3 separate regions of the Homo sapiens genome follow, and regions 1 and 3 are each linked to region 2. The links come from fine-mapping of genetic effects on gene expression. A gene starts in region 2. Each other region holds a variant in brackets. All regions are shown on one strand. Distances are from middle to middle. Region 1 overlaps PAK5 (p21 (RAC1) activated kinase 5). Region 2 holds the start of LAMP5 (lysosomal associated membrane protein family member 5). Region 3 has its middle 23 kb from the start of LAMP5.

Region 1 (8,187 bases), 26 kb after region 2:
CTCCACCTTTGTCTGCCCTGACATGTGATATACAATGCCTTTTTTTCATCCTGCTAGCTCAGGCTACTTCCTGAGGGTTTTTACCTTCCAACATTTCTGGATGGAAAATAGGCTGTGTATATAAAAGTTCCCCCATCCTCCAGCTTCACGAGATCAATGTTAATGTCCCCCTTGTCTCCCAAAGTGGAGGAGAGAGCCCAAATTATCTTCTAGGCTCCCAGAGAGCTCTCAACACGACCTCTTGAATCCAGGTTCTATTATAAATACACATGCACACGTATGTTTATTGTGGCACTATTCACAATAGCAAAGACTTAGAACCAACCCAAATGTCCATCAATAATAGACTGGATAAAGAAAATGTGGCACATATACACCATGGAATACTATGCAGCCATAAAAAAAGATGAGTTCATGTCTTTGCAGGGACACGGATGAAGCTGGAAACCATCATTCTCAGCAAACTATCATAAGAACAGAAAACCAAACACCGTATGTTTTCACTAATAAGTGGGAGTTGAACAATGAGAACACATGGACATAGGGAAGGGAACGTCACACACTGGGGCCTGTGAGGGTGTGGGTGGTTAGGGGAGAGATAACATTAGGAGAAATATCTAATGTAGGTGATGGGTTGATGGGTGCAGCAAACTACCACGAGAGGTGTACACCTATGTAACAAAACTGCATGTTCTGCACATGTAACCCAGAACTTAAGGTATAATAATTAATTAATTAATTAATTTTTAAAAAAGCCCTCAGATCAGTTTTGCATCTTTGGAACAGGGAAGTAGAATGAGAGTCTTCAGCCCTGAACCTGGCTTTCCTTGAACGTGGCCTTCCAGAATTTAGTAATTTTTTTTTCAGTAGTGGTATCGACATCACCATCTTACACTCTTTACAATCCCTAGGGATGGATATATTTGTCTTTACGTCATGTCATCACAATGTTACATACAACTTTGTACCAACTCATTTGCACTCCCCAAGATCACAAAGAAATCATTCTTGGTTACTCAATAAAATAAATTTGAGAAATCACTGTTTCCAATAACACAATGGGGAAAAGGCAAACATTTATTTTTATTTGCAAATGCAGTTTCTGCCAATAGTTAGTGCTCACAAAACCTTTTAAGCTACAGTAACTTTTGGTAAACTCAATGAATACTTTAAAAAATACCCGATGGTAAGAAAATTACAGAAAAATTTCCATTACACTGTCGAAAATGTTTGGAATCCAAAATCCACTATTTTCTGCAATAGTTTTTAATGTTTATTCTGGTTTAAAAAAGATTTTCTTTTTCTTTTCTTTCTACTTCTACATAGTCCTGGTTAAATTAATACAATCTGTCTCATGAACATTTAGGACTGCCATTTTCTGGATTTAGATTGTTTTTATTCTCACATATTTATATTAATGCTTTAATATTTTACATAAAACATTGATTTGCTGTTTTATGAAGCAAAATCATAGATCATATTTATGGAGGCATTTCCAGTTTGAAAGAAAACTGAAAATCTAATCAGTAGAAGGTCATTTTATGCCTTTTTTCCTTTTTAGCAGTGATAAATAATTAGCAACCTATTAATTACAAAAATTCTTAATTATGCTTAGAGCAACCAGAGCGCTATCACAAATTTAAATTCATATTTGTTACAGTATGTGAAATAGTTAAGAAAAGCCTCTGTTTTCCCAGTTTGGTAACAAATGGCTTTTGTCTGATGCATAATTAATAGAAACTAATGATGACTATGTAGCTCTTCCAGAGTTTTAAAGGCAAATCTATATTGGCCTACAGTTAACATGCAAATTCATCCAACAAGCAACACAAAATGTATTGTAGTAGTCATTCATTTTTATCAACATTCAAGAAGATCTAGACAGCAGCACGACTCTCCTATGTCGGAAACACATTATAACATGGGCACAACTGAAGTCAGATCATACCTGGTAAAATACCCTCTTGCTAATTCATCCTCTAGAGTCAGTTCAGACTTCCAGCACGATACATGAACAATAGCGATTAATACTGTGGTACAAAGGTAAATATAGACAAGAGTTTGGTGTGCTAGCATACAGAGTTTTAAAAATGGTGACAAATGAAACCAAACGTCTTGCCCTGTTCTCTCCTCTCCCTTTGTGAGCCTGGAATTCTCATGGTCTCACTGAAACATTCTATTTTGGGAACTGAATCCAATGATCCTAGCACTGAAATTGCTCCCTGGGAGGGAAATTTGGCCACAAGGGAACATTGTACCCATTTGAGAAAGGGCACTGAGGGAAACATTGTGGTGTGCAAAAGAATGGTTTGCTACTAGAGGCGTTCATGGAAAATGTGATCTTTAAAAATATTTAACTTTATCCCAAGGAGTGGTATACTGTGGCTCAAATTTTATTTCATTATTTTTGGTTGGATTAATGAAACGTGCACACCATCACCATCACTCTTAATTCTTCTTCCACCAAATAAGACACTTGTTAGGATAAGAAAGAGATTTTACTAAAGCTGACGGTGATTGAGAGTCATTCAGTATTCAAAGTTCCTAAAGAATCATTGGTTCTCTTAAAGGGATAAAAAAGTAGGAAAGGCTTTGTTCAAACTCCTCTAGTAAACAAGTATTACTTCAACTGATACAATGGCTACATGACATCAAAGTACTATAAATTATCAAAACTATCGTACAGAAAAATTACAAATTCGTTGCAAAATACATTATACTGCTACCATTAAGAAAAAAGTGCTTTTTGTTTTCCTTTCTTTCTTTTTTTTTTTTTTTTGCCAGAAAAGTATTCTTTCAATATAGAAAATCCTACATGTTACCCTGCATGTGGCTAGGATATATCATAACGGAGTTTGTACTGAGTCCTTCTGATTTGCTGGATGAAGGGCTGAAAAATATAATAATGACTTATTAAAGCCGTGCTCCAAGTGACCACACCGGCTGTCAGTGGAGAGATGCCTGTTTAAGACACAAGAAGATGCCCTGGTCTGTTGAACCCTGCCGGTCATCACGCTGTCCCACCAATTGGCTGGTCTAGAATGCACAGGCCTTTTGCATGTTCTGTGTTTCCTTTTGTTCTCCTGAATTATTCTCATGTCCTCATCTAGCTTTGCCACCTACACGAATCCTCTGCTCAGTGATGCCTGTATTGTCTCATGAGGGGGACGATGCAAGACGGTGGACCTGCTAGTTTTAAGAATGGATGTCCGAGGAGTTCCTGGGCTGTTGCTCTCTGAGAGGGCTCCCTCACCAACATCAAGTCTAGGAATCCCCGGAGCACTGAAGAAACCTGTGAAAACACACAGATACCAATCTGAGGACTAACACAGACACCTAACCCAGTCCCCAAAATGTTTTCCCCATTCATCCTATCAACAACTTCAAATTCCAGAAAGTTACCTTAAGGAGAAAGATGTTGTGAAAGCAAAAGCATGTCTTGTCTTTGTTAACATTTCGTGTTTTCCTTACCTTTTTCAAGTGTGAAATAATAGGTGTAAATGACAGCTCAACTAAGAATGAAAACTTATTTACTACATAAAATAACAGTGGCAATCACAGTGATAAGAGCAGCTATTACAAAATATTTAGTATGTGCAGGTGCTGGTCACACGTGCTTGATGAAGCATAGTATAAACAGGGAGCCGTTTTATTTTTCTAACAACTGCAACCACACAGGCTCTGTGGAACCCCTTTCTTTAAGAGAAACAAGCTTCTGTAAGGATATCGAACACATCTCATTTTTTTCTTTGAAGGTCTTGTAATTTTCCTTTTAAAGGTATATC[T/A]TACTTTATGTATATATTTAGAGATGAGGTCTCACTATGTTGCCCAGGCTCAAACTCCTGTGCTCAAATGATCCTCCCACCTCAGCCTCCTGAGTAGCTGGGAGTACAAGCATGTGCCAGCATGCCCAGGTTCCGCTGCACAAATACTAAGAGTGTGGCTCAATGGATTTTTACATACATTTACCCCTATTTACTTTCCACTCCTATCAAGATATAGAACTTTTCTACCACTCTAGGAAGCTACTTTTAGGTTTCCTTCCTGCCAACCCCTATCTCCCTGCAAAAGGTCACCACTATTTTAATTTATAGCATAACTTAGTTTTGCTTACTTTTGTACTTTACCAAAATGGAGTCATATATTTGATTTCTTCTCTATCTGGCTTCTTTCACTCAGTGTTGTATCTGTGAGATTCATCTCCGACGTGTGGCAAAAGTTATATCTTTTAAATTACTGTGTAGTATTCACTGTCCAATTATACCACACATTATCCATTTGGGAAACAACCTCGGACTGGTTTCCAGTTTTTTTGAAACCATTAGGATTAAAGTTGTTCTTGTACATGGTTTTGAAGAACATTGGCACTCACTGGGTGTGAGACTACTTTCATATGATACATTTTTAGTCACTTTTTTTTTTTTTTTTGGAGACGTAGTCTCGCTGTGTCACCTAGGCTGGAGTGCAGTGGTGCGATCTGGGCTCACTGCAAGCTCTGCCTCCCAGGTTCACGCCATTCTCCTGCCTCAGCCTCCTGAGTAGCTGGGACTACAGGCACCCGCCACCATGCTTGGCTAATTTTTTGTATTTTTAGTGGAGATGGGGTTTCACCGTGTTAGCCAGGATGGTCTCCATCTCCTGACCTCGTGATCCGCCCACCTCGGCCTTCCAGAGTGCTGGGATTACAGGCGTGAGCCACCACACCCAGCCACTTTTCATTATTTAGACTTAGTCCAATCCAGTAAAAATTTCAATCTCTCTTTTTTTGTTTATGTTTTTGTAGGTCCACACAACCTATATGAGTGATGCTACTGGGGCTGTTCCCTAAGATTTAGGGGTGAGGAAGGAGGAGATATTACCATTACAAATAATTCTCCTCCAAAAGGCAGCCACACACTCTCTTTTATTGTCATAAGATAGGAAGAGAGGTGTGTATGGGGCCAGTGTTTATAGTAGTAGTCCTGCAGAAATGATCCTCTGAGCAAGTCCTTTGGAAATCTGGCAGCTCCTACAGTGGTGATTCTTGGATGAAGCATCATTATTTTCTGAGCTCGTCCTAATTGGCAATCCTTGGAAAACAGAAAAGACCCCACTCGGTCTCTTACATGCATTATATTAACCATGACCTTCATTGCCCTGTACAATCTAGCTCCTGCCCATCTCTCTGACAAGACCTACCTTTTTCCCCTTTCTGACTTTACTCCAGCAATGTAAGCCTTCTTTCTTGGCTTAAGGCCTTTCCACTTGATGCTCCCCGTGCCTGGGACCTTTTTCTCCAAGATCTTTGCATGGCTGGTACCTTCTTCCTATTCAGGTCCCAGCTCGTTTGATCCCTCCCTAGAAAGGGCTTCCTTCACTCTTCAGCTTAAATCAGTGATAGGGTTTGGCTCTCTGTGCCCACTCAAATCTCACCTCATATTGTAATCCTCACATGTCAAGGGAGGGACTTGGTGGAAGGTAATTGGGTCATGGGGGCAGTTTACCCCATGTTATTCTCAAGATAGTGAGGGAATTATCATGAGAGCTGATAGTTTTATAAGTGTCTGGCATTTCCCCTGTGCGCTCTCTCTCTCCTGCCACCATGTAAGACATGCCTTGCTTCCCCTTCGCCTTCTGCCATGATTGTAAGTATCCTGAGGCCTCTCCAGGCATGTGGAACTGTGAGTTAATTAAACCTTCTTTATTTGTAAATTACTCAGTCTTGGGTATTTCTTTATAGTAGTGTAAAAACAGACTCATACAACCAGCTTTCAATCCCTTCTCCTGCACACTCTGTCACATCACAGTATGTTTTTCTTTCATAGTATGTACCACACTCTGAAATTATTTTATTTATTTGTTTGTTTATGGTTTACTATCTGTTTCCCCAACTAGAATGCAGAGTCTAGACCCCAGAGTCAGAAAAGCTGGGGTCATGCACGGTGACATCCCAAGCTATTAGATGTCCCCAGCATGTAATAGATGCTGAATGAATGAGTATGGCATAGAGCACCTGATTTACTCTTCTAACCAACCCTTTGGGATACAGGCCAATCATAACCCATTTTACAGATGAAGAACTTTGGCATAGGAAAGGCTGAGTCACTTGCCCAGTAAACGAATAGAAGAACAGAGATTCAAACCTAAGTGACTATTTCCAAAGTCCATGCTCATAAACCAGGATCTTCCTGCTGGATGTGGTAAGCCAGTCTTAAAAACCAGAGAGATACAGGAAAATCCAAAAACTATTCTGAACTTTAGCAACAGCTGCTGTTTCTCACCTTGTGTAGGTCCTTCACTCTTGGAGGTAAACTGTCCCGGATCCTCCGCATCGCCTGGAGGGGAGGCTCATTGAAGTAGGGGGGCTCGCCATCAATCATTTCTATCACCATGATCCCGAGGGACCAGATGTCCACCTGTTAGGCACACCCTACTGGTTATCTCAGGCAAGGAGAACATTCTGAAATGTCAAGTGTGTCCACAGAACCTCATACTCATTCACAAGTGACTATGGCACTTGTAACCTCTCAACATTTACAATATAGATTTATAGGCTAAACTGCTGGGTTACCGAGTTTTTGCTAACAGTCTTTGCCTTTTATGGACAACTTCAGTGAAGGTTCCACCCATCAGACATAAATGAATATTTTAACATTCTAAAGTTTAGTGCTTTCATTTTTACTCTGTAAACTTTAGTAGTTAACTGTCTATCAGGGCAGATGAGAAAATCATCCGGTTTAATGCTATGAAAATGGAGAAGAAAATTGTATTTAAACCATAAGCAAATAAGAAAGTTTTGACATATTTGTAACAAACTGCAAAGGGCTACCTTGCAGGATGCAGAATATATTCTGATTCTTTTATTAATTTGCTTTTAAAAATAGCTCTTTTCTCCCCTACTTTGGGATTTCCTTCCACTACCTTTTATTATCATTTCAAAACAGCATGCACAAAACCTCACTTTACAAAAGCATTTTCAGGGATTGGAGAAAAGAAAAGGAAGAGATGACAAGCAAGTAGTAAAGAATGGGAAGTCGAGACAATGAGGAGCCATCACTGTGCTATAAACTCCCAGTCCCACTCACTTTCCTGTTAGGAAAGTTTCCTGTTAGGGCCTCATTATACCTCTTATCTGATGAACGTATTGCTATTATTACCCCTTGCAGTGACCTTCACCGAGAATTTCTCTCTCAGGACCACAGTGAGAAAAACAAGTTGAGGACTCATCCAAGGTCAAGCAAACAAGAGAAAGAGAAAGATTCTGCCTTAACTTATGCTGATGTCCTTAGCTCACGGCCATGTCTTCTCATGCTTCTCTTCTCCCAGATTCACCATCCACACCATAAAGTGTGGAAACACTATGCCTAGCCGAAACATACCCCTTGGCTTCCATCTGTATGTAGCCTTATGTGCCTCTAAGCTTCCACCCATGCTATTACCTCCCAAGAAGGCCCTTCCTCTACTCCTCTGGCCCTGCATTTTCACATTTCCAGGCCCTACCTCTTAAAAGATTAAGAGTGATTGTTTTCATTCCAGTGGAAACAGAAATTGTGCCATGTTTTTGACTATGATTCACATATTATTTTTTTCCTATGAGAAAACAGTGTAGGTCCTTCACTGTGAGATGTAAACTGTGTTGAAAACAGTGGGTCATTTAAATATCACCTCTATTTTGTGGCACTTTCTTTGATCCTCTTTCCTTTCTCTGAATTCTCATGCCTGCTCATCTGCATGTCTCCAGCCACTTTGCAAGTTGCATTGCCTTGCTTTGTGTGTGTGCCTGCTACTGAGAGTGGGATCAGAGTTGGAGTGACTTTCCCACAGTGTCCACTGTAGGACTGCAATAAACAGCCCTTGGATAAATACTGCAGTGATCTGCCCCAGGGGTGGCCAGGCTCCCACCTGCCACAGCCTATCTACTCTGTGCCTCATCTAGTGAGTGGGGATCAAATGTGGAGCTAAAAGTCATTGCCCCCATCTCCTGTGGTCACCAACTATCTCAGAACCAATGGGTCCCTGAGCCTGTCCCCAGTCCTGCCACGCCTATGACTGTGACCCCCTTACCTCTGTCCCATAAGGTAGCCTAGAAATCACCTCAGGGGCCATCCAGTAGGGAGTGCCAACCAATGATTTCCTCTTCGGCACCTCTTTGGAAACTTGAGCACAGAAACCAAAATCAGACAACTTTATCTGAAAAGGAAAGGAATG
Region 2 (8,187 bases):
AACCTTAGGCCTATTGTGACAGATGTCATTTCTTGGAGAACAGACTCATTAAAGATTTTTTAAAATCCTCAAATGAGTTTTAATTCAACCTTACAGAAAGGTGCCCTGCCCAGAAGTTAACAAGGTTTTCCTCCCTCCCGAGATAGCAGAGTGAGTTGTGTATCACTGACCAAAAATGTAAGACTGACCAGAACAGTTAACTAATCACGGATTCAAAAGACAAAAATGATTTATTTGCTACTGAAATTTTGAGGAATGATTACCTGGCCCCTCACCATTTACTTATTTAGGGTTTGCTATAAGGATGCAGTTCTCTATATTGCCCCATGCTGAAGGCAATTCTTCTAAATGAACTCATAAATGGTATTTTTTTCAGGACTTAGTGTGAACATAGCCAATAAAAAGGCCGTTATTCTGGTGGTTTGTTTCCTCCACTGGTTACCGTTATTGCAGAAATAACCATTGTTTCATTAGAGTAGATGCAGGAGACACCAAAGAAGCACTAGGATGAGGAAAATTACACCAAGGGCATGCAGACTGAGTGCATTGGAGCCTAAACTCAATTTTCTGATTCTTTCCAAATATTCTAGGGCTTAGCAATGTATGTGCGAAATATTCTTGTGCATACATTGCTCATGCGCACACTTATTTTTGTACTCTTTGCTCTGGATCTAAACCCTTGTGGGATAGAAACTGAAAAATAATTCTTGTGCATACATTTATTTTTCAGTTTCTGTCCCACAAGAGTTTAGATCCTAGAAAGGGTTGCGAAGGTCTTTGAAGGCAATGACTAAATGAATTAATTGTTCTATGATAAGCTGAACACAAGAAAAGTTTTGGTGAGTAGAAAGTCTGGCTTAACAGCTGCATGCATCTTGTTTGTTTAAATTATTTCTGCTTCTGTTATTCGGGTGTGCGTCCGTTGTCTGTGTGTGGGTTGCAGAGGGATGGCTTGGTGGCTGTGGGAACAACAGAGCAAGGAGTACATTTTTACACTTTACTGTAAAGTGAACTGAAACCTCAATAAACCAAATTTCAGCTGCAACAAAGCCCAGCCTTTTCCTTTTGAAGCTATAAATACGCTTTTCTTATTAGTATTGTTCACTAATTTTCATAGTTTTGTTTCTTGATTCTACAAATACAAGTCAATTGCTTGCACAACCAAGTATGAAAAGATGCCCCTAACAACTTAAAAAGTTTAATTTTATTTAGAATAAATTTTGCATAGGCCATTCTTTTGCATATGCCATATGTGGGTAAATTATCAAATACGGAAATGAAATAGGGGTTCTATAGTACATAAGGCATTGTTGATTTACGGCCTAATTTGCTTTTTATTGCAAATGGATAAATATGGATGGATGAAGAGTTACATCTTTGCATTGATTCCCTATTCAATAGATATTTCTTCCATCCGTATCCTTCCTTCCACCCTACATCAGTTTGTCAACTTCTTTCAAGACTCACCTTCTCCAAGAGACCTTTTTTCATCAATTTCAACCACTCTCCCACCTGGGATGCCTGTCTTACTTTTTTTTCCCCCTGAACATTTATGCAGACACTGTGCTAGGCTAACTGGAATCTTTATGTAAATTCTTCTCATCCAAATTGAAAGTTCTATGCAAGGGCCTCTTCTTGCCCTTTTATAAAACAGCAACCACTCAATGGCATGAGATTCATAAAGGCTAATTCAGTAAGTATCCATATGAATTGAAAAACAGCCTTTGAAGGACCTAGAAGATCTAGAGGAGATCCCAAATCCAGTGTGTTTAGGTCACACTGCACCCTAACAGTTTCTACTGACCACCAGCAGCAATAATAAAAATTGACACAGTTACCACCCACACAGGTGTACATATTTATGTCAATTTCTCCTACCATCTTTTAGACTTGAGAAATGAAAAGTAGAGCAAATTCTGGGGAACATTGTTAATATATTAAAATGCAATTTAATGGCAAATTTTGCTCCTTGATCACTTCTTTGCTTATTTTAGAGAACCAAAGAGTTTTTTTCCAGAATGATTAGAAAGATATTTAATTAATGTAGGTGAAAGTTGTAGGTATAATGACCTAACTCCTATTGCAATGTATCACAGTGGATAAGATGATAAATTAATGGGCATTTGTTAGCCATGTTTAAGATTAAATATTAAAAAAGTCATTAAACTGATTGTGCTTTGAAAATAATCCCCCCAGAAAAAAAGAGTTAAAATTGCTTTCTTTCTTCTTTCAACCCATTTGAGTACTCTAGGGTACACTCTCCAGTGTCAACAAAGAGATCATTTATATCAGGTATAATTTTCAAAGGAACAACCATCTCATTTGTAAATCAACTACTACATTTTAAGATCAATGACCAATGCTACTACTCACCTAATCTTTTATTATTAAGGCAGATAATCATGAATTAATTCAGTTGATCTTTTAACAACTTATATAGTGAAGATATCTGCAATAACATACTGCAAGAGAAATTGTCAAAATCTTTTATAGGTGTCTCTCCTACTTGTGTAATGATAAATATCTTTTGGTTTTCAAAGCATCAAGCATACTGGAAGTAGTAAGTATTCGGTTAATGTTTATGGATCTATTTGTACTTTGTTTATTTATACTCATTGGCCCATTTGGTTTAACTAGCCATCCCCTGAGTTATTTTCCCAATTTTTCAGATGAGAACAAATAAAATCTTCAGAAGGTCACAAAAATAATAAGTAGTGAATCCTGGACTGAAATCTACTCATTTCTGTCCTCATAAAATACTGGAGAGAGAGAGAGAGAGAGAGAATAAATACTTTATTACATGTCTCATTGTTTTCCAGTTTTACAGTACTACAGGAAAATAAGTGTTTAATAATAATTGCTAACATGAAAAAATGTAACACATACAAATGTTATCTCTTCCACTTTCAACTGATGAGAACTGACGTTTTATCAATCTTCTGTATAAAATCATTTCTGTTAAGTTCTGTAAAATTTGCATCAATTCTTCTATATATAATCATCTTTGTAAAGTTCTTGAGAAATGTTTGGATGAAATACTGAACTACAAACATAAAAGTCAAGATGTCAAAATATAATGTCAATTTTAATATTACTTTATACTTTGAATTGCTAGTGATCTAATGATTGATATAGGAATATGTTTGAAAGCCAAAAACATTATATAGATACTTTGTGGCAGATATGTCAGAATGTGATTATACTTAAAACAGCATTCTATAAATTTGAAGAATGTGAATTAATGATAGAGATTTCAGATTTCAGATTATTATTTGATATTGAATATAGATTTTTATGGAAGTCAAAATATGGAGTAAAAATATTATATAAGGAGAAATGAAGATAATCTCACAGAGTTAAAGCATGTGATTTTTGTATTTTAATTCTAACTGACCATGTGACATTTGGGAAGGTCATTTAATTTATTTGAGCCTCAGTTTTGGGGTATGTAAAACCACAGTAACTCATATCTTTCCTTGCCTACCCTCTAAGATTGGGGAGAATCAAATTAGATAATGCAGGTGAAATACTTTGCAATTTTCCCTTTAATATGACATTGTTTTATAACATTATATTACTGATGCAACATTTATTTGCATTATGAAATATCTTCTAAGGAATAAAATATTTGGACATCACTACAATTGATGAGGACTGCATGTGTATTTTTGAAAGCTGTATTCTGATTTACAGAGCAAAAATAAAAAATAAGCAAGCTACCAAATATGTAAATACAGGAATTAGCCCAGTAGTATTTGTTCTTCTGTTCCACTACAGGCTTTAGAGTAATATCAGTGTGTGTTTTTCTTACATAACTATGTGACATTACTTAGGGCATAATTCTAAAATTTCTGTCCTAGGAGACACTAGATAACTCTCAAAAACTTCTGATTTGCTTGCATCCCTTTTTGGCAGAGTGGTCACAGTATAATGCGGGAGGGTAGGTGACCCCAGAGTTCAGAGTCCTCATGCACCCGGGAGCAAAATTCACAGGAAAATAAGCCCACATGGAGCTACTGCATTGTCTGATGGCCTCGTTCGAGGAGGCGTCAATTTAACTTTAAACCCATGAGCTCATTGAGAGCAGGGGAGAGAAGGGGATGTCTCCAAATTCAGGAAACTGTTGCCATAGCATTTTCCCTTCTCTATTCCTGCATAGCCCTCCTCCCCCGAATCAGCAACAATTTTTGCTCCACCGTTTTCTTTCGGGAACCAGATGCGTTTTCAGAAGACAGTACTCCAGTGATAAGGTATCTACACCACTTAATAACTGTACCTGGTAAGGAGATTTAATAAGGCTGAGGGTGGTATTAAGTTTCTCAGAACAGACTCATCTTTGCGGATGCAGTTGCAGAACAGGAAACAGACCCAGGGAGAAGTTTAGTCCCCCCAGATCTCATTGGCCCTCCGCACAAGCCAAGCCACAGCCACTCCTGCCACACAATCGGATTGCTTTCAGCACTCGCAGCCGTGGACCGCCGTGCGGTCCTTTCCTCCGCAGTGAGCCGATTTGCTCTGCCAGCAGCTGTCGGTGCCGCGCTCGACACCGAGTCCTAGCTAGGCGCTCACAGAATACGCGCTCCCTCCCTCCCCCTTCTCTGTCCCCCGCCTCTCGCTCACCCCGGCCCACTCCAGCGGCGACTTTGAGGGATTCCCTCTCTGGCGGCCTCTGCAGCAGCACAGCCGGCCTCATTCGGGGCACTGCGAGTATGGATCTCCAAGGAAGAGGGGTCCCCAGCATCGACAGACTTCGAGTTCTCCTGATGTTGTTCCGTGAGTAGCGATTTGGCGACTGGGAGAGAGGACGGGCACTCTTTGCAGAGAACAGAGCCGGCAAAGTAAAGTCAATTAGCTTGAGATAAAAAATATGGCCCTTAATGTTTTGCGGTGTTTTTTCTTTTTTTCTTTTAGGGGAGGAGGGAGGGCCTTCCTCGCCGGTGGCAGGGAATTCCCCTGAGAGCCATACACCTCTGTGGCATATTCCAGACAGAGCCTAGACAGGCCAGCTTCGTGAGGTCAGAGCATTGGCAAGAAATATTTACTTTAAAATCCCAAGATGTAGAAAACAGCCAGCTATATTACAAACAAAGTCAGGATTTTTAATTTTTTTAACTGTATTTTCATTATAAATTAACAGCGAAGGAATGAGGCTTGTTAGACCCGGGTTAGAGAAACGGCTCGTAGAGCGCACAGCTGCTGGCAGAGAACTTTGTCACTCCAAAGCCTGCAGAGCACTGTCTCCCCACCCTAGCGCCCGAGACGCGTGGGCTGAGCCCTGAACTGATGGAATTGTTTTGTTTGTTCCGCAGATACAATGGCTCAAATCATGGCAGAACAAGAAGTGGAAAATCTCTCAGGCCTTTCCACTAACCCTGAAAAAGATATATTTGTGGTGCGGGAAAATGGGACGACGTGTCTCATGGCAGAGTTTGCAGCCAAATTTATTGTACCTTATGATGTGTGGGCCAGCAACTACGTAGATGTAAGGAATCTTTCCCCCCCCTCAGCTTGCTCCTAGGGCTCCAGGGCGAAGGGCACCCTTCCTCAAGGCTCTTCGAAGACCTGGGTTGCCCGCCTTCTTTCCCACACCCCGGCAGGCTGCTCCCGAATGCTGCATGGGGATTCCAGCTTGTAATGCCTTCTGTTCCCCTGCCTGCTTTGAAAGTAAACCCCCTTCTCTCCGCTTCCCTATCGGGGCTGCACGTAGAGCATCTAACCGCATGTTCCCGGAACCTGGGATGCGCGCGCGCAAAGGAGCGCCCAAGCGTGCAACCCAGAGTTTGGACGCGCCGCCCTTTACAGCCCCCGCCCCGGGGCCGGGCGAGCTGAGGGGGCGCGGGGCGTCTGTGTTCCCAGCTGATCACAGAACAGGCCGATATCGCATTGACCCGGGGAGCTGAGGTGAAGGGCCGCTGTGGCCACAGCCAGTCGGAGCTGCAAGTGTTCTGGGTGGATCGCGCATATGCACTCAAAATGCTCTTTGTAAAGGTAACTCCGAGCCCAGCGGGCAGAGGGGCCGCAGGCTCCGCGTGGGTGTGGGAAGTGGCGGCCCCTAGGTTTAAGAACCCAGACGCTGCGGGGACGATTGAAGCGCACCTCCCCGGCTCAACAGGAAAGCCACAACATGTCCAAGGGACCTGAGGCGACTTGGAGGCTGAGCAAAGTGCAGTTTGTCTACGACTCCTCGGAGAAAACCCACTTCAAAGACGCAGTCAGTGGTGAGTGGAGGCTGGCATGGCTGGGGAGGGAGCCTGGGAACTCGCAGAACAGGCTTGGAGAGAGAATTCCTCAAGGTTTTGGAAACCGTCCCACGCTTTGAGGTCCCAGGCCAAGTCTTCCCTCGGCTTGCTCTTTAGGGCGGAAGAGGCGGGAGCGCCCATGAGTCTTCTGGGTCTCAGGCCTTGTAGATCCGCCAGGAACCGCAGGCGTGGGGACCCAAACGTCACCCGTGGCCTGATCCTAGATAAGAAGTCCCTTGAAGGCCTGTCGTTCCCTGGTGCTTCAAAACGACCTCTTATGATTTGGCCTTTGAAGGACCACGGAGAAGGGCAAAGCTGCATTTTAATTTTCTTCCGCATCCTGGTTTTGTTTCTTATGCGCTAAAACTGCAAGGGGGCAGTGCGACTTTCCTTTTCAGTCAGGATGTGATGGCCTTCAGTGTCTTTTTGCGCATGGCAGCATGGCTCGCACGGGATATTCAGTCATCGACTGCAGCTACCTGACAGTGGATTCTGCACCATGTATAATTTACTAGCGTTTCTGGCCCATCCCTCCGACAACTCAGCCAGATCCTCCTCGGCAAAACGAGCGTTCATCCCCCAAATAACAATATTCCTATCTGCAGACACCGTCAAAGACCACATTTAAATTTATTTTATTCTTTATAAGTTGTCTATTTCACTCATAATGAGGCCCTTCATCACCCAGGCACCTGAGTTGGGAAAGGATTTTTATTGAATACATAAAAATACATGTGTCATCTTTCCCTTTTCACCCCTTTTTGTTATCACAGTAAAAGGAGGATTTTTTCTTTTTCATCAAAGTTTAGATGCAAGATGTCCCCCAGTTAAATTAGACCAAAAAGGAAAAAGGAAAAATCAAACTTAGGTCAGAAAAAGAGCAATGGGAGGCAGACCTTCAGAGGGGATGTATGTGTGTAAGGACAAGCATCCAGAGGACCAGCAATCTGTCCGGCTTTGTTGAGGAAGATGTTTTATTCTTTGCCAGGCCCGTGTGAAATGTGGAAAACCAAGTCACTGTTCCTTCTGTGTCTTTGGAATCTCCATTATTAGGGATTTTTTTTTTCTTTTTTGAAGTGCGGTCTCACTCTGTCCACCAGGGTGGAGGGCAGTGGCACCACCATAGATCACCACAGCCTGGAGTAAGCTACTGGGCTCAAGAGATTCTCCCACCCCAGTTTCCCCAGTAGCTGGGACTACAGGCATGTGTCACCATGCCAGACTAATTTTGTAAATGTATGTGTGTGTGTGTGTATTTGTAGAGACAGAGTCTCACTATGTTGCTCAGGCTGGTCTAGAAATCTTGGGCTCAAACGATCCTCCCACCTTGACCTCTGAAAGTTTTGGGATTACAGGCAGGATCCACCATGCCCAGCCTAGGTTTTATACAGTAACAAGGGTTGGGTTTTTAAGTATCATTCTCCTCTTCAAAAAAGGAGTTCCAAATTAATATTGAAAGAGCCCTGGCTCTCAAGATAATGGGTGTGTTTGTCCTTCATCACCACTTGATGCCATTTGTAGAGCCCTAGCCCTGGCAAGGGAACAGAGAGGACAGGAGGGGTGTGGTGTCTGGAACTGAGAGGCAATAGCCAGCTCTCTGGCACATTAGGTTAGGAACAATGAGGGTTCTAACTATTGCTCTGGGCTCTTGCTGTAGCTGGGAAGCACACAGCCAACTCGCACCACCTCTCTGCCTTGGTCACCCCCGCTGGGAAGTCCTATGAGTGTCAAGCTCAACAAACCATTTCACTGGCCTCTAGTGATCCGCAGAAGACGGTCACCATGATCCTGTCTGCGGTCCACATCCAACCTTTTGACATTATCTCAGATTTTGTCTTCAGTGAAGGTAAGTTGTTGGGGGATGGAGGGGAAGAAGACCTAGTTTATTTCAGGAAGGATGAGAGAGGGACCTACCAGGGCCCCAGGATGTTACCACTTGGATTTCCTC
Region 3 (8,187 bases), 23 kb before region 2:
CATTGATGAAATGTAGTATATTCACAGGGTAGAACACATGAAAGTACTTACCTTATGATTCCACATACATGAAGATCAAGGAAAGGCAATGCTAATCTTGAAGGAAGTCAGAGTAGTGGTCCTCTCTGAAAAAACCTTCCAGGATGATGGTGATGGTCTATGCAAGTGGTTCTCGAAGTGTGTATCAAGGATCCCTTGGCAAGCCATTGTGTCCCCCAAGAGACTGTCAGAGGGTCTGTGTAGTCCTCTTGTTTCCAAATCCGTCTCTGTGGGAGGCCAGATTTCTTCATATACTGCAGTGAAAATGACATATCACAACAGACCGAATGAAGAAAAAGACATTAGAACTCAGATGACTTCTGTAAAGCCATACGTTAAAGACATTTGCAACAATGTAAAACAATGCCACTCCTCCCACCAACTTTTAGAAAATACAGTTATGTTTCACAAAAAAGTTATTGTAATAGTACAATATTGGTTATATATTAACAAGTGACAGTTTTGTTATTTTTATTGAATTGAGAAATATTTTGAAATTCCTGTTTCAAATTTTTAACATAGTAATGCTTACAGATATAATTCACATAAACAAACTCTGAGTTTTTTAAAAATATTAAGAGTGTTAAGGAATCCCTGAGGCCAAAGATTTTGAGAACTGCTGGTCTATAACTTACGCTGCGTGGAGGTTACATGGGTGTTTATACAGGTAAACATTGATCAGGGAATCAGGGAATACACCTAAGATTTGTGTCTTCCATTGCATGTATAATTCTCAATTAAACCCATGTTTTAAAAATATAGCAATAGATATATGTTCATGGTATAAAGAGAATGGGGGGAATGAAATATAATTTAGTATACAAAAATACATATACACATTCAGAAGACCAATAGGGATGATGCCAAAATAACAAAGTTTACTTCTGAAGCCTGTTGCCTAGTGGAAACCATCGAAGAGGCATAATTACTCAGAAGAGTTTTGAGCATAAAATTAATTCAGCAGGCTTTGCTGCTCCACAAGGAAACTATTCTACTCCTCTCAAAAGCCTGTGCTGAGTGAGGGAGGCAGAGTTGGATGTGGAATAGACTCTCTTTATTCTTCCCTTCTAGCATTTTCCATGCCAACTCTCCAAGTCTGCAACAGAAAATGATTTGAAACAATACAAGAGTAACTTAAGAGAGAGCCTCTCACAAGGGACAGGAAATGACACACCCGAGAAAAATAGCAGAAATATCCACTTAGGAAAGGTGGCAGCTGTCAGATTAAAGAGAACCCAGATGATGAATTTGGCATAAATTCTCCCAAGGGGATCTGCAGTAACATTAAATGATAGTGCAAAGCAAAATGGAAATGGGTGCAACTGGGATCAGCTGAGATAGATGAAACTTTCTACTTGTAGAAGTCAGTGTGGCAATTAACAGTCTAATTTGGGATCCCACTGACTACAGCTTAGATCCTAACTCCGCTATTCACTAACTGCGGACTTCAGGCATCCTACTTAATGCCGCAGAATTGGAGCTTTCCATCTGTAGAATGGATGTAATGCCACCTACCTCATGGTGCTGCTGTGAGAATCAAGTTAGCTTTTGAATCATTTAATACATACAGTTCCAGGCATATCCTAAGTGTTCAAAGAGTGGTATTTTGAAGATCATTTGTGGCTGTGTTTACCTTTTTAGCTGAGAACTCCTCTTCATCTTAATACATACTCTATAGAAACTCTTTTAGGAATTTTAAAATAATATCATGTCATTATTTTTGCATGATATATAAAGGTATGATTTTAAATATTTGGAAAAATGTATTAGATTGATATACTTTTAATAATTGGTTAGCAAAGTTCATTTCAATAAGATGTTTAATAGAGTAATATTCATTAGATACCTCTGAAGAGACAAATTCCAACTTTTTCAGTATACCAAGCTTTAAAGGAAGATAATACATTTTATTTATTCATTTATCAGTTAATAGATATTTGGGTTGTTTCTGATTTGGGGCTATTATGAATAATGTTGCTATGAACATTCACATACAAGTTTCTGTGTGGATGTATGTTTTCTTTTCTCTTGGGTATATACCTAGGAGTAGAATTGCTGGGTCACATGGTAACTCTACGTTTAACTCTTTGAAGAACTGCCAGACTGTCTCCCAAAGTGGCTGCGTCATTTCACACTTCCACCAGCAGTGTATGAAGATTCTGAGTTCTCTACATCTTTGTCAATACTTATTACCTTTTTTATTATAGTCATCCTAGTGTGTGTGTCGTTGGTATCTTATTATGGTTTCGACTTTCACTTCCCTGATCCTTAATGGTATTAAGCATCTTTTCATGTGCTTATTGGCAAGTTGTATATCTTTTTTTGTAGAAATATATATCTCAGAACCTTTGCTCATTTTAAATTGTGTTGTCTTTTTATTACTGAGTTGTAGGAGTTCTTTACACATTTTAGATACTAGTCCTTTTTCAGATATATAATTTGCAAAATTTTTCTCTCATTCTGTGGGTTGCCTTTTCACCTTCTTCATGGTGTCTTTTGAAACACAAAAATTTAAATTTTGATGAAGTTCAATTTGTCTATTTTTCTCTTTTGTTGCTTGTGCTCTTGGTGTCATATTTAAGAAACCATTGCTTCATCCATGGTCACTGAGATTTATGCCTGCTTTCTTTTAAGAGTTGTATAGTTTAATCTCTTACATGTAGGTCTTTGATCCGTTATGAATTCTTTTTATATCTACTGTAAGGGTGAATGCCATTCTTTTGTATATGGATAGCTAGTTGTCCCAGAACCATTTGTTTTTGTTTTTGTTTTTACATAAGTTCTAGAGATCTACCGAGCCTCTGTTGAAAAAACTTTTTCTCAATCAAATTGTCTTGGCATCCTTGTCAAATATCAATGGATTACAAATGTGGAGGTAAACTCACTGTTAAACTCCCATCATGTCCATTGGCATTGCTTAAGATGTGGATGACCTTCACCTAGCCAAATCCCATGTGTCTCTTCTACATGCTCATCAAAACCTCTCTGCAATGTTTGACACAGTCAACCATTGCCCCATTCTTGAAACACTCGCTTGTCTTTGTCTTCATGACCTCAAACTATGTGGAGGCACAAACTTCCCATGCTCCAGTCCCACCTTATCTAACAAAATGCTTTCTTTTCTTCCTTTCA[C/T]GAGAAAAGATGGATCTCAGGAATCTTTTGTCTATGATGCTTCCATCCCATGACACCCTTCCAAATTCTTCCCTACTCACAATGGAATGCAGAATTTATGACCCAGACCACGTCTGTTAGCCATTAGTTCTAGACTTTTGTCTTTTACACACTTATTCTTATCACCTCATGTAGATTGCAAGTTCACATTGTATTCCTCTTCTATTACTGCATAACAAATGACCACAGAGTTACTGCAAACCCACTTACTATCTCACAATTCTGTAGGTCAAAGGTCTGGGCACAGTGTGGCTGGATTCTCTGCTCAGAATCTCACAGGACTAAAGTGAAGCGTCAGCTAGGCTGTGTTCTCATCTGAGGCTCAGGATTCACTTCCAGGTTCAAGTAGTTATTTTCAGAATTCAGTTATTCGCAGTTATATGATTCAAATCCGCACTCCCATGCTGGCTGTTGGTTGATCAAGGATAGTTCTCAGCTCCTAGAAGCTGCCTAGTTCCTTGTCACAAGGCCGTATATATAGGTCCTCTTTACAACATGACAGCCTACCCATTCAAAGCCAGCAGCAGAATCTCTTTTAGCATTCCTCTTTCAGGAAGGATCTAGCAGTTCCTTTTAAGGACCCACTTGATTAGGTCACCCCTACCAGGATAATCTCCCTTTTGATTACCTCAAAGTCAACTGGTTTGACTTATTATATCTGCTAAATTAATTACATCTGCAAAATTCCCCCATTTCAGGTAATGCAACCTAATCAAGGAAGTTAAATTTATCAGATTCACGGTTCTGCCCATGCTTCATGGGAAGGGGTTATTCAGAGTACATGTACAAGGAGATGAGAGTATTGGGGGCCGTCTTAGATTTCTGCCTAAACACCACATGCACGCACACACACACACACACACACACACGCGCACACACACACACACTCATAGCACAGACTCCGAATGTTAAAGTTAAATCTAACATGTTTATAGCATTTAGTGAGCTCTCTCATTTAATTTTCATGTTACAGGCAAATGGAGAACCTTATCACCATTGTACAAATGTTGAATCTGAGGTCACAAAGCAACACCATGGAGATTAAAAAACAGAACCCATTTATTCTCCTGGGTCCAAATTTCTGTTCTCTGTAGAACCACCACACTGTCATAGAGATCATCACATCCTATTCTTAAAAACCATGAACACAAAACCACCTGACAGTTTACAATGAACAAAGAGCATTTGTCAAAGGCACAATGTCATTTCATTGTCATGGCAACCTATTAGTACAGTTTTTATCATTTCTGCTTCAAATGAGGAAATGAGTGAGTGAGCCCCTCAGTACAGCACTTAGCACAGTAAAGAACAAATAATACAGCCTGACCAACATGGTGAAACCCCGTCTCTACTTAAAAAAAAAAAAAAAAAAAATTAGCAGCTCATGGTGGTGGGCGACTGTAATCCTAGCTACTCAGGAGGCTGAGGCAGGAGAATCGCTTGACCCCTGGAAGCGGAGGTTGCAGTGAGCCAAGATCATGCTATTGCACTCCAGCTTGGGTGACAGAGTGAAACTCGGTCTCAAAATAAAATAAAATAAAATAAATGAACAAATAATAAACTCCCTGCTTTTGGTGCTGTTATAAATTAATTTATGGATACCATCATACAAGGTGCTGTGAGGAAAATGCAAAGAAACATGATCCCTGCACTAGAAGGATTTATTTGTTGATAATACCTCAGGATTTGATAAATCCCATGCATTCCCAATATTAATTAGATTTGGTTTAAAGAATGCCAATCAAAAAGGGAGTTCAGCAGGGTAATAAAATCTAAACAGAACTTTGCTTTTGAAAGTCTAGTCTACGAGTCAGGAAACTATATATTCCACTGGCCAAATCTGGTCTCTCACCCGTTTTTATATGGCTCATGAGATAAGAATGGGTTTTATGTTTCTGTGGTTGGAAAAATGTTAAAAGAAAAATATTTGGTGATTCATAAAAATTATATGAAATTCAAATTTCAGTGTCCATAAAAAAATTGTACTGGAACACTGACATGCTCATCCACTTAAATATGACCTCTAGTTGCATTTGCGTTATGACAACAGGGTCAAAGATTTCTAACAAAGACCATATGACCTGCAACGTCTAAAATGTTTGCTCTCTGGCCCTTTGCAAGGAAAGTTTGCCAGCCTTCAGTCTAGCCCATTTACCCTAGAGTAGAGAAGAGGGGAGGGATGGGGGTGCAGAGGCAGAGTGGCAGGAACCCAACTCTAGCTTTCGGGGAGGAGAAGCAACAAAGTCTCCTTGGAGCCCTCAAAGACACAGGGTTTCTGAAGTCCAGGGCCAGGAAGTGGCAGAACCTTAGATGGTTCTGCTGCCTGACTGATTCCAAGCCTTGGTTTCTGCTGCTTTTGGAACCTTTGCAGACAAAGAGAGCTGCCAAGAATGAAGGCTTCCTTGGGCCCGGCACGCTTGCCCTTGCTGGGTTGGACAGGAGACAATGGCTACAGTGACCTCTGGGACTGAGGAGTGGGCACCTCCCCCACTCCCCAGGTGTTTAAAAGCCGTAGTGTGATTGTGTGGTTCTGAAGAAGAAGACAAATGGTGCGGGATGTCACAGTGTGTGTTCTGCAAAAAGTAGAGCCTCGGACAAAAATTTGAGTGCAAGTATTTTATCTGGAGGTGATCCCAGGAAATAGAATGAGGGTTTGGGGGATGGAAGTAAAACAATAAAGGAATAATTACGGAGAATGTTACCTCTGTGGGCGATGGGCACAATCCCCCTAGATATTCGGCAGGATGGTGTAGCACACACCTCAGAATTGTCCCACCAGGGTGGAGACAAGGGGTATTTATCCATCAGCATTCCCTTCTCTTTGGATGGGAGTTTTTCTTGAGGGTAGTGACTCCCTAGTAGCTAGCTCCAGCCAGCCCCTCATGGGCCAAGCAAGCTCCTGGAGCCAGAGAAGCCCTCAGGGAGAGAGCTGCATGTGCCAGAGGCAGGAAGTCTTAGGCATGAATGAGATAGTACTAAAGCTATGGGAGGTTGAGGAGACAAGGGAATATGAGTGGGGCACCAAAAGTGTCTACTGCAGTGGGCTCCCCTTCAACTTTGGAGAGTTAGCAGCATTGGGAGAGAACATTCAAAGTAGACTTACTTTGTTTAAAAAAATGATACTTCCAGCTGCTGGAGTGTGCCCGATGTTCATATATGTGCCTTAACTTTCCTGTTAGATGGCAGACTCCTCAATGTTATGCAAAAAGACACATCCTGAAATTTTCTTAGTGGATTATTTGATAAGGAAAAAATATTAAGAGTTATTTGCTTCCTCTTTTCTTTTTCTCTGGCTATCCTCCGGTATGGACGTTATTCGCAAGAAATAGAAACAACAAAAGTCCCGAATAATCTAAAATAAGGTACTCTTGAATTATCAAAATTAACTATCAAAGTCAGTGAGAACTAACCAGCTCTGCATTATTATTTCCCATCTTAGATATTCTAGCCATTAGGACAGAAAACATGAAAGACACAAATACCGTAATGTGTGCTATATTTTAGTAACAATAAAACCTCTAAAGATATGACTGCATTGTGGGCTTTGTTTAATGATTAACAACAAAAAAAAGGATGGTGCATTTCCAGTTGAAACTGAATCCAGCCAGCTTTCCAGATTTCAAAGGCTTTATAATGGAAGAAACAGCCCATAAGTGGGTCACAAACAATCTTGTCCATTAATCATCCCAAGTCTAGCAGATATGCATGCCGGGTGCCAAGAAAATCATGAGACTCTGTCTCAAAGACAGTGTGCCTTTCTAAATTTTCTTCTTAATGTAAAAGTCTAATATTTGGGTTCAGTGATATTTTGCATTTGTATGAGAAAATGGACCCCACTCTAAGAGCAAGGATAAAGCAACACACCCAACTTTCAAGAGGCAAGAAGGATCCTTGGTAATCAGAGTCTCAGGTTTATACATCCAGCAATGACCTCCCTGTTGATGCTCAAATACTCAAAGCTGCCGTTGGAAATTTAATGGGCATTTCAAACTTAAGTTATTCAAATTAGAATTCCTGGGTTTCTTGCCTGCTCCTTCCCAGCCTCAGGTTAAAACTCTCAGGATTATCTTCGATTAATGGCTTTCTCTTGTCCCTTTGGTATAATCGATAAGTATTATCAGCTCCTCCTCCAGCATATTTCTGAAATGGAATCACTTCTCAACACTACTGAGATAACCACCCTGGTTGTAACCAATGTCATCTCTTGCTTTGACCACTCTAACAGCTTCCTGGTTTCATTTGCATCCACTCTTGAGCTCGTGCAATCCTCTCTGCACGCAGTAGAAGAGTGATCTTCTTAAAGTATAAATCAGACTGATTGTGCAGGTCATCTGCTTAAAATCCCATAATACTTCCCTCTCCACTAAAAATAAAGGCCAAACTCCTTTCCTAAGCCTATAAACCTTCATGTGATTCTGCCCTTTATTCCAGTTATCTATTGTTGCATAACAAACTATCCCAAAACTGAGTGCTTGAAGCAACAACAATTCATTATTTCTCATGGTGCTCTAGGTTGGCTGACCTCAGCTGGCTAGTTCTTCTGCTCCACTTGGTATTGACTGGGGTCGCTTGTATGGCTGTGCTTGGTTGGGAACCCAGCTGGGGCTGAAATGTCCAACATGGTTTTCCTGACACATCTGGTGCCCCAGTTGGGATGTCTGCCTGGGCTGCTCGCTCCCTCTCCACATATCTCTCCACATTTAGTGGTCAAGTTCAAGTTTCTTTACCTGGACGCTGAATCTCAAGAGAGCAACAAAGGAAACTGCCAGAATCAATTCTTAAAGCCTAGGCCATGATATTCCATTGGTCTATGCCATTGGTCAAATTAAGTCATAAGGTCAGCCCAGACTCACAGACTCAAAGGGGAGGGAAGATAGGTCCACCTCTTGATTGGAAGAAGGATATTAATATACAAGAATGGGAGAGATTTTGGGCAGCCATTTTGGAAATAACCTTCCATACCTACCTGCCTCTCCA

Evidence for each region. PIP is the estimated chance that this variant, and not a neighbour inherited with it, causes the effect.
Region 1: its variant is the best candidate, but not a certain one, in a credible set for the expression of LAMP5 in whole blood (INTERVAL, PIP 0.81).
Region 3: its variant is the best candidate, but not a certain one, in a credible set for the expression of LAMP5 in whole blood (TOPMed, PIP 0.70).

Annotation. Positions count from the first base shown.
Region 1 is chr20:9,536,326-9,544,512 of GRCh38, forward strand. PAK5 (p21 (RAC1) activated kinase 5) reads right to left here. Exons shown (of 10, transcript NM_177990.4): 8 at 8,044-8,169; 9 at 6,261-6,395; 10 at 1,045-3,292. The coding sequence ends at 3,137. Among named protein-coding and RNA genes, the nearest start is that of LAMP5-AS1, 25 kb to the left of the region's middle. The variant T/A (reference allele first, on the strand shown) is at 3,786.
Region 2 is chr20:9,510,144-9,518,330 of GRCh38, forward strand. LAMP5 (lysosomal associated membrane protein family member 5) reads left to right here and starts at 4,447. Exons shown (of 6, transcript NM_012261.4): 1 at 4,447-4,773; 2 at 5,310-5,482; 3 at 5,857-5,988; 4 at 6,113-6,218; 5 at 7,897-8,085. The coding sequence starts at 4,710. It overlaps LAMP5-AS1 (LAMP5 antisense RNA 1), which reads right to left and starts at 4,855. Exons shown (of 5, transcript NR_109957.1): 1 at 4,621-4,855. RefSeq lists enhancers at 1,014-1,063, 5,382-5,966.
Region 3 is chr20:9,487,121-9,495,307 of GRCh38, forward strand. No RefSeq gene overlaps it. Among named protein-coding and RNA genes, the nearest start is that of LAMP5, 23 kb to the right of the region's middle. The variant C/T (reference allele first, on the strand shown) is at 3,172.